2 separate regions of the Homo sapiens genome follow, and region 1 is linked to region 2. Evidence: fine-mapped expression QTL. A gene starts in region 2. The other region holds a variant in brackets. All regions are shown on one strand. Distances are from middle to middle.

Region 1 (8,344 bases), 48 kb before region 2:
ACTGAGAATGTCTGTGAGTAGAAGGCTAGTTTTTAGGAATGTTGTAGAAAAGTATTTGATAAGAGTTTGACTGTATGATCACAAACTCCCCTTAAATAGAATTATTTTGGATTTTCTGAATACTTAACTCCAAAAGTAATGACTTGATACACAACACTAACAATGCAAAGGAGTATGCTTATCTACCTGATGCCATAGAGTCTATGCGTGTTACATGAACATCATCCTTAATAAAGGGCAACTGATATTTTAGAGGTTAGACTATCCTGTCCCTATTTGTTTGACTTTGTGATCCAGTTTTCTCTGAGTAGAGCTAAGTAAGTTCACTTCACATTTTATTTAAAGAACTCTCATCATCCCTTGAAACCACTACCAATCCACCAACCCTCTGACCCCACAACTCACTAAGGGGAGGATGGGAAGCTCTTAGATGCATAAAATTTGGAAAAGTGAGAAATGACAGAAAACAGACAACTGGAATCTAATAACTCTTCTCCTACAGCAGACCTGCTATCAGAATTACTGCTTGGGTGGTATAATCAACTTAATTCAATATATTCATGTCTCATATACTGAAGTGTCTTGGGGTACTAAAAATATTGTTACTGTAAAGTAAGTAGAATTTTTTTAAAAAGAATCAAAAGATATTAAAAAGCTAGAATGTAAACCCTAAAAGTACCTGAAGGCTCATTATACCTTTGTACATGTTTGAAATTTCCATAGTAAAAACCTAAAATAAAGAGACCTCATACAAAAATCTCAACTCTCATTTATGATTCAGCATCTACTTAACTTCATCTAAATTTACCTGGACTTATCTGAAAATACTTAACTGCTAGTTAATATCCCCTGCACACTCTAAATTTCAAAGGAAAGTTCTTAATGAAACACATTCATTACCAAAATTGAATAATGCTTCACTGGATCATGGGACTCAAAAACGTTATCACATAGATTTCCTTCTTTTTAAAATCCAAGCAGCAAAGTGGTTTTAGATCAGACTTCAGTTAATACAGTCCACTGTAAAATTAGTTGTTTTAATACTCTAGAATTACTTTTTTTTTTGAGACAGAGTCTCACTCTGTTGCCCAGGCTGAAGTGCAGTGGTGCAAACTCCGCTCACTGCAAGCTCCGCCACCTGGATTCACACCAGTCTCCTGCCTCAGCCTCCCGAGTAGCTGGGACTACAGGCGCCCACCACGACACCCAGCTAATTTTTTGTATTTTCAGTAGAGACAGAGTTTCATGGTGTTAGCCAGGATGGTCTTGATCTCCTGACCTCGTGATCCGCCCACCTCGGCCTCCCAAAGTGCTGGGATTACAGGCGTGAGCCACCGCGCCCAGCTACTCTAGAATTACTTTTAATAAATAAAATTATTTCATTTTCTCTAAGTTTCCAGGATTTTAAAAACTTAGAAAATGTTTCACTTATTTCTGTTTAACAGCCAAGACTAATAGTGAGGAAAGATTCAACATAAGTGTGGCATTAGGCTGGGAGTCAAATGATAAGATTCTAGTCCTGGCTCTGAACCTATTTTGCTTTGAACATGTCACTTCCACCCTTGGCATCATGGAGCTCATCCATAAAATAACTCAGACATGATCATCTCAAAGTCTCTGTCTCGTTCTGAAGTTATACAATATTATGACCTTTATAGTGAGTAAACTCCCTCAATGTGACAGGTTCCCTATTCTTACAAAAGCTACAGTCATACAGTACTGTGGATAAACCCAAACAAAATGTGCCAAGTCAGGAGTGTTGAAGCAAATGTGATGGAAGATACTGGCTTGAAATATGGGCTGAAATACACATTAAAGTATCTCAAGAGTCTTTCCTGTCTACAAAACATCAACATTATATGCTACAGCTAAAGCTCTGAAAAACTGTGAGAAACTTAACGATTCAACCAAGACAACGATCTCTGCTGACTCTTGAACATAAGGGAAAAGCTCTGAATAATAATTTGACACCCAACACCCGTAGCACCCATCCTCCCACCCTGTATTTATGTGTCAGAGAAAGATGGTACTTTTGTGGCATCCTGGAATCAAGGGTACGGAGTAGAAGGTACTGTTTGTTAAACAGTACATTCAAAAGGTTCAAATTAAGCACTGGAGAAAACTACCTTCCTACTTAATAAACTAACAGGATCCAGTTAGAAGTGTCTTTGTTGTGATGTTTGTATTGCATATATACAACAAATTCCTTAACTCTACCACCACTGAATTCACGTAACTCACATTGATGTACTGTTAATATTTCAACAGTCCCACTTTATAAAGTCCAATATTCTAATGCATAATCTAAAATAATCGAAGTGAGAATATGGACTTCAGTTACGGAATGAAGTAATTTCATAGAGGTTTATTAATTATAAAATCAACAAAAGTAAACAAGCAGCAATGCCACCCGAACTTAGTAACAAGCCGGCCATGTAGTACAAATGTGGTGTACTGAAAAACCAACTGCTTTCAAAAATAGTAACACTAAGAAGTGTAGCTTTGATACCTCTATCTTGTCGGTTAATTCATATTGTAAAAGGACTGCCAGGAGAATGACGGCTATCTAAATCAAACCACAGTGTCAATATGTTGGGAACAAGTACCCTGGCTACAAGGAAGGAAAAGGAATACAGCCCTAAAAGATGCATACAGATAAGCAAGTAAGGGGGAGGCACTCTTGTATTTAATTTACAGCTGAAAAATTCAAAGATAACACTGGTAGTAAAAACCTACAAAATGACTGTGAGTCAGAGAAAGTGCTGGGTTTTTTTGAAGAGCCTGAGACGGTGTGTATATGTAAAAAAAATTGAATGGAGGTGTAAGCCAGTATTGTGGTTTTGTGATGATTTAACCACAAATGTCTTCCCTATTTAAATATTCCAATCAGTACTGTTAGTACACGTACCTCGGAGAATTCTTTCCTCATGGCAACGAAGAAAGTCCCAGATTCTAACAGTGCCGTCATCAGAGCATGTAGCAAATTTATTATCCGTGGGTGAGAAACTGTTACATGAAGACACACAGCAGGGGAAAGAAGTCAGCATTTAACAGATAATCTGTGCTTCTCAGACAGGGAAAAATAAAAACACTGTGCTGCATTATAAACAGGAGAGGGAAGAATCCAGTGAAGAAGCCCTTAAAGTGAATGTCGTCAGCTAACATAGGCATCTCATCAAAAGAAGACTTCAACAGAGCAGTTGTTTGAGTTTTCAATCATCAGTATTCTGAGAACTTCAAGTGTGTATTATTAGTGCTAATGCTATCCATGTTCCTTCTCTATTTTCTATGATACGAGGAAATCACATGAAGCTGCCTTAAGTGGTGAAAATAAATGGATTCTATTTTTGCAGTATTCCTGCAGTCTTTTAAATCACACACGAATACTGCTCCCAAAATTATCATCAGCTTCTGCCTCAGACACTTCATGAAATAAGCTGAAACAATGTGGGCTGTCTATTAAAAGACTGATTGCTAAACATCCCTACATACAATGTTTCTCATCCATTTCAAAGGTCTGTAGAAAAGTTTCACATCTTCCTGGCAAGCTATTCCATGAATGTTGCACCTTTGAGGAAAACTTTAAAATAAGGACATTCAGACTTGTGTGTAAAGCCAAAGAATCTGCTGCAAGAAGGAGTCAGTTTTTCCCAGCAGTGAAAGATCATCAAGTTTCTCAACTAACTCTAAAAACTCCCTTGAACTTTGGAATCCTATGAAGGACCAGCTGTGTAAACTCAATGTATGGGCATGACACTAAGGCAAAATCTACAAAGCAGAAGCATGTTCATCCAACAATTTCTGTTAAGATTCTGAAAGTATGAACAAATGACTACAGTGGATGATGTTTCCATAAAGATGTCAACCTCCTCCCACACATGGGTGGCACAACCTTAAAGAATGCTGCTTAGCTTTATTCTGAGGCTGCAGCAATTCTTCAGGCTTGTATTTGGAACTTTTTCCCCCAGTTTTACTATACATACCTCACTGATGTGTAAAAATATACAACTCACTGAAAATATTTTAAACTCCACTTATTGTATACATTTGCATAAGTGATGTTATCAACAGTGAATCAGAAGAAAAGTCCTAGAGTCTTCTTGACAATGATCTGCTTACAGCTGCAAAGCTTGAAGAACCCATTCATTACTCCGTTAATGTTTGCCACATCCAGTTATCTGTGAGGGTTTTAGTCCTATACTTTCCTTTGGAAGTCGTGGCATAACCAAGCCAACCAGGTCTTCACTTAAGCCTTTTTCCACTTTGTGTGAATTCTGAAGTTGTTTTCTGTAGGCTTTAGATTTTATTCAGTTGCATAATTAAAGACTGAATTCTTTATTTGGAATGAAATATTCTTGTCTTACACAGTAGATAATAAAAAGGAATAACGTATACACATTATTAATCATAAATGAAAAGAGAAAACCAGTGCAAAATGCGGCAGACAGTACATCTCTAACATATTGCAAAGGCTG[A/T]TACCGGGACAACACTACTTCAGAAAGGTGCCAGCAAAATGGTGAATGTGTGAAAACAAAGAAAAATATTGTGTTTATAGGGTGCAGAAAGTTTCCCAGAAACTGACAGAGCCCATGCATCTCTGCACCCAGAATACACTTAGAGAATAATTTAACCATGACAATAGGGACTACAGAAAATGGTATATTGTGTATAAACCTGGCCTCTCTAATCGCCTCCTTATGTGCCTGGAACATCTTGACGTTGTTCATGTTCGACTGCCAATATTTCACATATCCTCCGTGGTCTGCTGTCAACATCCACATGTCATTATGTGACCACGTCATGGCCCTCACTGGGCTGTCGTGAGCCTGTGAAAGCAGAAAACATTAATTAGTAAGGTGCTGCTTCAAAGAATATATGACTAAAGGCTTACAAGAGCATATAACTGACTCGAGGTAATAATTCGTCCCAATTCTAAGTTTAACAATGCCAATGAAATGACTATATCTCAAGTTCTTTACAGTACCACAGGATGATGATACCATCTGGTGATTATCATTACCTGTAATATTGTTTCAAAATTGAAAGTGAGTCCATTCCACAGGGTAAACTCCCCACTAGAAGCTCCAGTGACCAAGCGTCTTCCTTCTGGAGTCCACTAAGGGAGAAAAAAAGACAGGTTATACATCCTCCAACTTCACTAATTTTGAAAAACATATTAAAGGTATTTGTAAAACATGCAATAACTGACATTAAATAATGATACTGACTTTCACTTAAATGTAGCTCAGCTTTATCAGAAGTACTTTGTCAGAAAACAACTTAACACTGTGCAAGGAAAGCTCTAGTCCTTTGGTTTATTAGCTAAATTAAAGACAGTAAGTACATTATGAGTATACGCACCTACTCACTAAATTACACACACGTATGCATGCTAAAGACCATTTCAAAACAGAATATGCAAAGACCTCATTTCCCTAGGCTATACGATAGACTAACATAAATAAGGTGATCAGTCACCAGAACAACTCAAAGACTGAATAAAGGATATGGTGCTTACAAGTAAGAGAGGACAAATTCAGAAAGAAAAGTTACCAGTGTTTAATTAAAAAAACAAGATAATAATAAGTACCGATTTAAGGACACTGAGGCTTTCAAACTCTTCCTGCAGCTAAACATATTTAAAAAAAAAAAAAAAAGTAAGCTCTCCTCCATTCAAAGTACCAAGCAGTGATAACTCTTACGCTGATCTACTCTCAAAAAAAACCATAATAGTGCCATGACTAATTAACACTACACCAAAAGTTTTAATTCTAATGGATACACATAGATGTATATATTTTCAGGGAATGACTATGCCAATAACTTTTTTTGCACTTTTAAGTGCACCTTTTCTCTTTTTAAATTAAACCTAAAGTCCTTTATTACTTTTTGCACTTAAGGCCCTTTAAATATTTTTACATCAGTATTTTGATGTCACAATTTGCATACTAAAGGAAATCTGTGGCATATGTGCTGGTTAATTTGAAACATTCAAATTTTTTGTTTTTACTTTTTATTTTCAAGTTTCTATGATGGATCACACACTCATTTTCCTTAAAAGATGTAAATATACAAAATGGCAATACAACAATCCTATTTTCCAAAAACTCCGACAAAGTTGAAAAATACAAATACATATGTGCTTATAGAAACAGTAAGGATATATAAAATGAAGGTTATTTCTTAAATTACACAAATATATATGACAATTTGGCTTTTCATTGCTTACCTGTAAGTCACAGTTTTGATTATCAGATTAAAAGCCTCCCCTCTTTCTAGTTTCTGTTATCTGGTATGGATCCTAACCCGGTCAATACTACAGACAACCAAACTGTAGACACAGAGCCCACAGTCTTTATACCTTAATACCTTTTGATTTTGACTGTGCCTCTACTATGTGCAAATTCTTCCTCAAACCTTATAGCGTAATCCCCAAATGAGAACATTTACCCACCTTATAAGATATGGATGCTCGGATTTTATTCTTTTCAAAAAGGTTTTCCATGCTATGCTAAGAGGATATTAAAATTAGCTGCACATCATACCCCTTTAACCAAATTCCCTGATTAAAAAAAAAATTAGACTACACACTGGTTGCTTCTACTCACATAACAATGTTTCTTTTTTTTTTTTGAAACAGAGTTTCGATCTTGTCGCCCAGGCTAGAGTGCAGTGGCACAATCTAGGCTCACTGCAACCTCCACCTCCCAGGTTCAAGTGATTCCCCTGTCTCAGCCTCCTCTCTCAGGCACGTGCCACCACACCCGGCTAATTTTTGTATTTTTAGTAAACACGAGGTTTCATCATATTGGTCAGGCTGGTCTCAAACTCCCGACCGCAGGTGATCCACCCACTTCAGCCTCTCAAAGTGCTGGGATTACAGGTGTGAGTGATGTGTCTACTGCCTAAGGCCTCTCAGGCAAATAAGAGGCCTAAGACTAAATGCAGCTATTTCTATGGAGTTCAGACTGACATCTCTCTCCCAGGACTTCTTGGTTCTCCCTGCTCTCTATCATACTCCTCTGATATCAGAAGATCTGCTTATTTTCCTCATCTGCCACTAATGTTTGACACAATCGTCTTTTCTCGGTCTCATTTTTTTTCAACTGTTATTTGCTCAACTTAAGACTGTTAACCAACAAGTGCATTAGCTAGGAAATGGAATAATCGAAACACAAAGAAGAAAATGATTACATTATCATCTATGAAAATCGGGGTTATAACTAAAAATTATATTTTTTAAATTTAGTTTCAGTTTTAAAATTAGTTTCAGTTTAAGGCCGGGCACGGTGGCTCATGCCTGTAATCCCAGCACTTTGGGAGGCTGAGGTGGGCAGATCACGAGGTCAAGAGATTGAGACTATCCTGGCTAACACGGTGAAACCCCGTCTCTACTAAAAATACAAAAAAAAGTAGCCGGGCATGGTGGCAGGCGCCTGTAGTCCCAGCTACTAGGGAGGCTGAGGCAGGAGAATGGCGTGAACCCGGGGGGCGGAGCTTGCAGTGAGCCGAGATCACGCCACTGCACTCCAGCCTGGGTGACCGAGTGAGACTCTGTCTAAAAAAAATAAAAAAATAAAATAAAATTTCAGTTTAAATGTATTAAGTGCCTACTAGGTACCTTCATAGAGCTAAAAATTACGGTACACCACAGTTCTTCAGCTCTCAGATGTTTTCCTGTCTGTTAACTCCTAAGTATTTTTCATTTACCTTGGGATGCTGCTTTCTAAATAGTTAATAAAAGCATTCCTACTCAAACGCAACTCTGAGACCTGCTACAACATGTATCCATCTATTCAGAGAGAATTCTACAGAAATTGCCACATGAAGAAAAACAATCCAAAAGTGGTATCTCACTCAATGGTGATAAAGTAGATAAACAACTGGATATTCCAAAATAAAATTACTAGCAATAAACCAATTATAAGCCCAGATATACTTTTAAAATAATGTTTAATTTTCTTTGCCCTGTCAAATACATTTGCTATATAACGCAGGATTAATTTTCCCCCAAAATATCCAACAGATTACTTACCCTAACAACAAATACAGGACACTTTACTTTATTTGTTGATGTCCGAACAAATTTTGTTGTTACTGCATTCATAGGATTATTCAACATTCCTATAGGTGGGACCAGCTACAAAAAAGGAAAATTGGGTTCTTAGAGCTCCTGATTACATACAAGGCAGAAACCAGAAACACGGCAAGGTAATTATTTCAACATTTAAAGACAAATTTGGGACCATATAGAACTTTCCCATAAAAACTATTATAAAGTATTACAATTAGTCTATTAATTAAGTGAAGAAAAGTGAGATACAGGAAAGTTAAATACCCATTA
Region 2 (8,344 bases):
CATTCTTCAATTTGTATAATGCCTAGGTTTTAGGAATACAAAAATATAAGGTACTATAGCACGTCTTCAACGTGCTCACAAAGAGCTGGCAGCAGGGACTCATGACTCCCAAGACTTTGAAAGGCTGAAGTGGGAGGATCGCTTGAGCCTAGGAATTAGAGGCTACAGTGAGCCATGATCATGCCACTGTATTCCAGCCTGGGTGACAAAGTGAGACCCTGTCTCAGAAAACAAACAAACAAACTAAAAACCAAAGTATTCACAAGTAGTGGAGAAGGTATAGTCAAAATACATTAAAGATATATACAAAATGCTTTAATAGCAGAGAAAGGAGTGATTAACTTATCAGAGGAATGAGATTGTCAGTAAATTTCAACAAAGATATTTGAGTTAATGTTTAAAACTGAAAATGATGTCACCAATTAAATTCATCACAGAAAGAAAAAAAATGTTAACATTTAAAGAATGCCTACTATATATGAGGCACTTTTTACCTTTAGGTTTTATAGTTAACATTCTTATATACAAAGAAACTGAAGCTTAGAGAGTTTAATTAACTGACCCAATATAAAAAAGGTAGTTAATGGTGAGCCTGGCATTCAAACCTAGGTCCATTTGCTGCTGAAACCCATACATGCCCTTTCCAATACTACCTAGCTCTGGGAATTTATAAGCACACAAATCATGAGTACAAGATACAATACAACTTTAGAAAGTCAGTCACTACCAGAAAATTAGTAAAATGTTTAAGGGCCAGACAGATGAGAGTAGCACTGCTCAGATTTTCCAATACACTGAAGAGCTTCAGTCTCTAGGACTAATGTAAATGGTTTGAAATGGGGAGATAAATGTTACCAAAGAAAAATCATTTTCAGCAGAGCGCGGTGGCTCATGCCTGTAATCCCAGCACTTTGGGAGGCCCAGACAGGTGGATCATTTGAGGTCAGGAGTTTGAGACCAGCCTGGCCAACATGGTGAAACCCCGCCTCTACTAAAAAATACAAAAATTGGCCAGGTGCGGTGGCTCACGCCTGTAATCCCAGCACTTTGGGAGGCCGAGATGGGCGGATCACGAGGTCAGGAGATCGAGACCATCCTAGCTAACACGGTGAAATCCCGTCTCTACTAAAAATACAAAAAATTAGCCGGACGCGGTGGCGGGCGCCTATAGTCCCAGCTACTCGGGAGGCTCAGGCAGGAGAATGGCGTGAACCCGGGAGGCGGAGCTTGCAGCGAGCCAAAGATCGCGCCACTGCACTCCAGCCTGGGCGACAGAGCGAAACTCTTGTCTCAAAAAAAAAAAAAAAAAAAAAAGAATTCCAGAAACACATTTATAAGTGAAAATTTTTCACTAATATCTTTGTCGTAATCATAAAGCTTTTCTGTAACCTTACTATCCTATTCTGAAATATGAAGCAGTTCAAACTTCAGCCATAATCAAATAATATTCCACCGCAAAGTAATGGGAAAAGTATATGAACTTATTACTTAGCAAAGAGAGCTCTGAATAAATACCTTAAGTGCTTAGTAAAAATATAATTAAAGCCTTACGTCAATATAAAACCGTGATGGCAAAATCTGTTTAGTATTTTTCACCAACCAAAGAAAATTATCCAAGTTAAGCCATCAGCTTCACAGATAAACATTTATTTTTGTCTAAACCATTGTAATATATGTAAGCCAAATTCCTTTTTTTTTTTTTTTTTTTTTTTTTGAGACGGAGTCTCGCTCTGTTGCCCAGGCTAGAGTGCAATGGCGCGATCTTGGCTCACTGCAACCTCTGCCTCCGGGGTTCAAGTGATTCTCTTGCCTCAGCCTCCCGAGTAGCTGGGATTACAGGCGCCCACCACCACACCCAGCTAATTTTTGTATTTTTAGTAGAGACGGGGTTCCGCCATGTTGGTCAGGCTGGTCTCGAACTCCTGACCTCAGGTGATCCGCCCACCCTGGCGTCCCAAAGTGCTGGGATTACAGGCGTGAGCCACCGCGCCCGGCCATAAGCCAACTTTCTACCAAAATTCTTCCTAGGAGTACAGGAAAGACAAGTTAAAATTTCTCCCCAAGTTTCAAGAAGATAGTCTAAATATGGAACTTCAAGTCTCAGCAAAAACTCAAATCTATACAATATTTTATCTTCTCCCGGTCAAGGAGACAAAAAAAGCAAAAGTATCTTACAGTAATAAAAAATGGGTAAAATGCAATTAAGGCGAGGAAATGAAAAATGCCACAAGAGGTACAACTAGCATAACTGTCACTAAAAGGTTTGAATTAAGTAGGTTTACCACTGCACCATATTCACAGGCTATATATACATACACACACACATATATACACATATATATGTATATATAGCATGCATTAGCTCTCCAGAGTGTACTAAAAAAGTAAAGTCTACGCTCCCCAGAGTTGTTCCTTTCAGTGCAGGCTTTTTGTTCATATTCTAATGTCTTCCAAAGTTCCTGAACAGTCAACTTAAGATCATGTGTGTAGAAACTACTTTAAAACATTCTTGACAGGCTTTCTACAAGTAGCCCGTATTTTTCTGATTTGATTTAAATAGATCCAATTACGGAATTCCCTACCGACCTGCCGCCGCCGCCTCCTCCTTACTCCGGAAGGGGCCACTAATCCCAAGGGTTACAACCAAGTACAAACATTCATTGTCATTTCTTTTAAGAAGGCATGCTAAGATCCTCACTACTTAGTTGCCAGAAGACAACTTAAAATCAGAAACAGGGATCTAGCACAAACCAAATAGAAATACAACTATTCCAAAAAAGCAGGGCTTTGCCTGTCAAGCTGTAGCCTCATCCTTATAATAAGCACCGATTTCAAGCCACGATAACATCACGGCTAAGTCTTCAGCTGTTTTGCAGATTTCACGTTAACTTCCCTTGACCCTTTCAACCAACTACTTCAACTCGGCCCACTTCTTTCCACTCCCGCCCCAAACCTCAGTTAAAATGCATTTCCCTCCAAACTTCACGTCTTAACTGTGGCCTGACTTACGTCTTCTCGTCGCCACCGCTCCCAGTCAGGGCCTTAGTTCTAACCATGGCCGCTTTTCCCGGTTGGCCTCCAGCCTCCAGCCCCCTCCCATAAGTCTCGAACCTGCCTCGAACAGCCGCCCCGAGGTCGATTCTCCCAGTTCCTCCAACCTGTGCCCAGGCGCCCGTCCAGGCCCCCAAAGCACGCAACGGCCGAGCCCGAAAATGGCGGAGAGTGCCGCTGCCTGCTGCAGGCGAGCAGTCCCGTGTCGCCGCCGCACTCACCGTCTGGCTTTGAGCAGAGCTCCTAAATGGCCAGCGAAGCGTTCGCCTTCAGAGCCAGAAATGTCTCTCTTGTTTGGTCTCCCCACCCCGATCCTCTCAATCCCGCTCCTCCAAAGGAGCAGCCGCCATCTTCCCCTATGGGCCACCGAACGCACGCTCTGGGGTCATCACGCACTGGCGGGACGGCGCTACGTCACGCGCGCCTGGACCGCGGGCCTCTGTGAGGTTCGATCTGCGCATGTGCCTAGGTGAGGTGCCGAGCCGCGAGACCCTGCAGAGCGCTTCCTTTGTTCCGGAGCGAGTAGGACGCGCTACCTCCTGGAGGAAAGAAGCGACTGCGTTTCGCAGTGCTGACTTTTTTTTACAGTGTGAGCTAACGTGTATGCTCTGAAAAACACCCCGTTTTCCAGTATGTGAATGAGTATATTTGTACGGGGCCAGTACGGCAGACATAGCGGGTCGTTGGACCGAGCCCACCGAGAGTGGATCTGTGGGAAGCCACTGTGGCACCTTGCTGAGTCTGTTCACCCGTGCAGCTAGCTGGTGGCAGCCCTGGCAGATCCCGGCACACAGTCAGGCTCCACGCCTTACCCGAGCCAGTTGTGCCTCTAGATTACGCCTCGCTTAAAGTCCAGCGACCAAGATAGAAAAACAGCCCCACGATGCAACCATTTTGGAAAACCGCTGCAGTTTCTGCCAAAGCTAAATGTACGCTTACCTTGTGACCCCAGAAATTTCACTTCAAGAGGAATGAGTGCATACGTCCACCAAAGGCATGTGCAAGAATGTCCATAGCACGTTTATTCGTAGTAGTAAAAAACTGGTAACCTAAATGTCCATCAGCAGTTGAGTGGCTAAATTGTGGTGTATCATACAGTGGATTTCTACAGAGAAATAGGAAGTTACGGATAAACGCAACAGCCTGAACGAATAGCAGCTACTGTTAACTTAGGCACAAAGAAGAGGACGCTGTATGATTCCATTTTGATGAGGTTCAAAATATAACTGCACAGCAAGTTGTTCTCCAGTATGAATCAGGAATCGTACCAGCCTGGGGAACATGGCGAGATCCCATCTTTGCGCGTCGGGGTGCGTTCCTGTGACCGCCTTCCTGTGATCGTTCCTGTGATGGGTACTTGGGAGACTGGGGTGGGAGGATCACTTGAGCCCAGGAGTTGGAGGGCGCAGTGAGCCAAGATCGTGCCAGTGCACTTAAGTCTTGGAAGCAGAGTAAGACCCTGTCTCAAAGAAGTCTTACTTTTGACTCCATAATCCCCTTCCAAAAATCTATTCTAAGGATAGCCTCAGAGATGTGAGTAAGATTTGTGTACTAATCTTTGAGGTATTAATGATAGCAAAAAAAAAAGGAAACAGTAGCAGACAGTGATTAAATAATGGCACATCCATACGTAGACTATCATGCAGACATTACACAGTATCTAAAGTTTTTATGATAACATCAGAAATGTTTATAAACTTCTATATTTTTTCTTTTTTTAGAGACAAGGTCTCTCACCCAGGGTGATCATAACTCACTGCAGCCTCAACCTCCCGGGCTCAAGTGATCCTCTCACCTCAGCCTCCCTAGTAGCTCAGACTAATGACCTGTACCAGGACACCCATACCCAGCTAATTTTAGTAGAGACTGTCAGGCCTCAGAGCCCAAGCTAAGCCATCATATCCCCAGTGACTTGCACGTATACATCCAGATGGCCTGAAGCAACTGAAGATCCACAAAAGTGAAAATAGCCTTAACTGATGACATTCCACCATTGTAATTTGTTTCTGCCCCACCCTAACTGATCAATGTACTTTGTAATTTCCCCGACCCTTAAGAAGGTTCTTTATAATTCTCCCACCCTTGAGAATGTACTTTGTGAGATCCACCCCCTGCCCACAAAACATTGCTCCAAACTCCAATGCCTATCCCAAAACCTGTAAGAACTAATGATAATCCCACCACCCTTTGCTGACTCTCTTTTCGGACTCAGCCCACCTGCACCCAGGTGAAATAAACAGCCTTGTTGCTCACACAAAGCCTGTTTGGTGGTCTCTTCACACGGACACGTGAGACAGAGACAAGATCTGATTATGTTGCCCAGGGCGGTCTCAAACTCCTGGGTTCAAGCAATCCTCCTGCCTCAGCCTCCCAAAGTGCTGGGATTACAGGCCATGCGCCACCACGCCCAGCCCCTATAATCTTATTTTGATATGTGTCTAGAAATATGTAAGGAGGCCAGACAATTCCAGTTCTGTGTGATGAGCTTAGGTTAGGATGGAAGGAAGCCATGGACACCCTGAGTGCAAGGCAGGAAAGCCAGGATAGAAGGCAGGATTCTCAAGGGCTGAAGGTAGGGAATGGGGTCAGGAAGGTAACGCTAAGAAGTCCGCTCATCAATTGGGTTTAGAAGTTAGGCAGAAAAGACAAGCAAGTGGTCAGTTCCTAGAAATTATACTGGGAGTGGTAGAGGAGGCATTCAGGCAGTGTCCTGATCCCTGAAAATCTTTAAAATGTACTGAATTGGAGGAGCAGTCTAATCAAGGGCAAAAATCCTTCACACCTGTAACCTCACAGGCCCCTTCCTGGAAAATTGTTTTTTAAATTGACCAGGAGACAAATGAATCTGTTAAGTATACTGCAAGGATGCAGTCAGCCATATTCTATATTTTATAAAATTTTACATGTGATACATTTTCTTCCAATAAAAATTTAAAAACTGAGGAAAGAAACTGTTAGAGATTATCTGTTACAGGTTAGAGACTTAAGAGGCATATCAACCAAATGGAATGTGTACTCCCTATTTGGGTCCCAATTGAACAAACTGGGGGGAAAAGACATTTTAAAGAGTTTTTAAATTTGTTATATGTAACAACTATATTTTCATTATTTATTTATTTATTTTGAGACGGAGTCTTGCTCTGTCGCCCAGGCTGGAGTGCAGTGGCGCGATCTCAGCTCACTGCAACCTCCGCCTCCCAGGTTCAAGTAATTCTTCTGCCTCAGCCTCCTGAGTAGTTGGAATTACAGGCTTGCACCATCATACCCGGCTAATTTTTGTATTTTTAGTAGAGACGGGGTTTCACTATCTTGGCCAGGCTGGTCTTGAATTCCTTACCTTGTGATGCACCTGCCTCGGCCTCCCAAAGTGCTGGGATTACAGGCGTGAGCCACTGCGCCCGGCCTTTTCATTAATTTTTTAAAATCTTTACCTGTTGGCTGGGCACCGTGGCTCACACCTGTAATCCCAGTACTTTGGGAGGCTGAGGTGGGTGGATCACATGAGGTCAGGATTTCAAGACCAACCTGGTCAACGTGGTGAAATCCCATCTCTACTAAAAATACAAAAAAAAAAAAAAAAAATAGCTGGGCATGGTGGTGGGCACCTGTAATCCCAGCTACTCAGGAGGCTGAGGCAGCAGAATCGCTTGAACCCCGGAGGCGGAAGTTGCAGTGAGCCAAGATTGTGTCACTTCATTCCAGCCTGGGCAACAAAGCAAGACTCCATCTCAAAAATAAATAAGTAAAATCTTTACCTGTTGTGTCCTGAAGTATGTATGAGTTAAATGATATGATGTCTGGAATTGGCTTTAAGTGATTCCAGCCAAGCACATCAGCAGAAATGGTTGAGTAAGAACATCTGAAAATCTTCTCCTTCATAAAAGCCACAAAACACTGGCAAAATTTTGTCAAAATCAATTTTTTCAGTGTTCAGAGTGCTGGAAATTAACCAAGGTCTTTCAACAAGATAAGGATTGTTTATTCAAGAAAAAAAATGGCTAAATCTCCACTAAGTTACAAGGGAGGAGAGAGGGACATAGACACAAGATTGGCTAGGTGATAGGTAAATGACAGTTCACTATCCTGATTTATTTATTTACTTCTTTTTTTAGGGACATAGCGTCTCCCTATGTTGCCCAGGCTGGCCTTGAACTCCTGGCCTCAAGTGATCCTCCCATTTGAGCCTTCCAAATAGCTGGGACTATAGGGGTGCACCACCACACCTGGTTAATTTTCTCAATTTTTTATAGAGATGAGATCTCACTATGTTGCCTATGCTGATCTTGAACTCCTATCCTTAACTGATCCTCCCACTTCAGCCTCTCAAAACACTAGTATTACTGGCATTAGCCATAGCACCCAGCCACTATTGTCTTTACACATACATGAAAATATTGTATACAAGTACATTTTTCCTACACAGATAGGATACTATCCAAATTGTACTCTTTTGGCAATATATCTTGGCACCTTTCCTTCTCAGTTCACGTGTAGACATATCTTCGTTCTTTGTAACAGCTTCTCAGGCCTGAAGCGGTGGCTCATGCCTGTAATCCCAGAACTTTGGGAGGCCTAGGTGGGAGGATCACTTGAGCTCAGGAAATCAAAACCAGCTAATACAAATAATGCTGCAATCACCATCCCTGTGCATTCTTTATATGTAAATACAGCTGAGTATGCCACCTCCCACTGGATTAGCATAGACTATTTCTACGCATCCTGTTCTCATCATCTCTGCATAATACAGCTTTCTCCCCCCTTTCTAGAGGCAGAGAAAGCAAGCCTGCTAACAAAAAAAATCAGAAACAAACTACGCCAGGTGTGGTGGCTCATGCCTGTAATCCTAGCACTTTGGGAGGCCGAAGCGGGCGGATCAACTAAGATCAGGAGTTCGAGACCAGCCTGGCCAGCATATGGTGAAACCCCATCTCTACTAAAAAATACAAAAATTAGCTGGGCATGGTGGTGCATGCCTGTAGTCCCAGTTACTTGGGAAGCTGAGGCAGAAGAATCACTTGAACCCGGGAGGCAGAGGTTGCAGTGAGCCGAGATCGTACCACTGCACTCCAGCCTGAGCCACACAGCAAAACTCTGTCCCTAAAAAAAAAATAAAAGGAGGCCAGGCGCAGTGGCTCACACCTGTAATCCCAGCACTTTGGGAGGCCAAGGCGGGCAGATCACGAGGTCAGGAGATCAAGACCATCCTGTCTAACATGGTGAAACCCCATCTCTACTGAAAATACAAAAAATTAGCCAGGCGTGGTGGCGGGTGCCTGTAGTCCCAGCTACTCGG

Evidence for each region.
Region 1: its variant is fine-mapped to the expression of WDR33 in whole blood (TOPMed, PIP 0.95).

The regions. Positions count from the first base shown.
Region 1 is chr2:127,760,154-127,768,497 of GRCh38, forward strand. It overlaps WDR33 (WD repeat domain 33), which reads right to left. Exons shown (of 22, transcript NM_018383.5): 4 at 8,036-8,140; 5 at 5,021-5,116; 6 at 4,675-4,826; 7 at 2,909-3,006. Among named protein-coding and RNA genes, the nearest start is that of WDR33, 47 kb to the right of the region's middle. The variant A/T (reference allele first, on the strand shown) is at 4,476.
Region 2 is chr2:127,807,740-127,816,083 of GRCh38, forward strand. WDR33 (WD repeat domain 33) reads right to left here and starts at 3,432. Exons shown (of 22, transcript NM_018383.5): 1 at 3,273-3,432. LOC124907885 (a long non-coding RNA gene) reads left to right here and starts at 3,512. Exons shown (of 2, transcript XR_007087230.1): 1 at 3,512-4,404; 2 at 4,773-5,993. RefSeq lists enhancers at 1,507-2,414, 2,497-3,437, 2,844-2,923, 3,004-3,083, 3,104-3,393 and 1 more.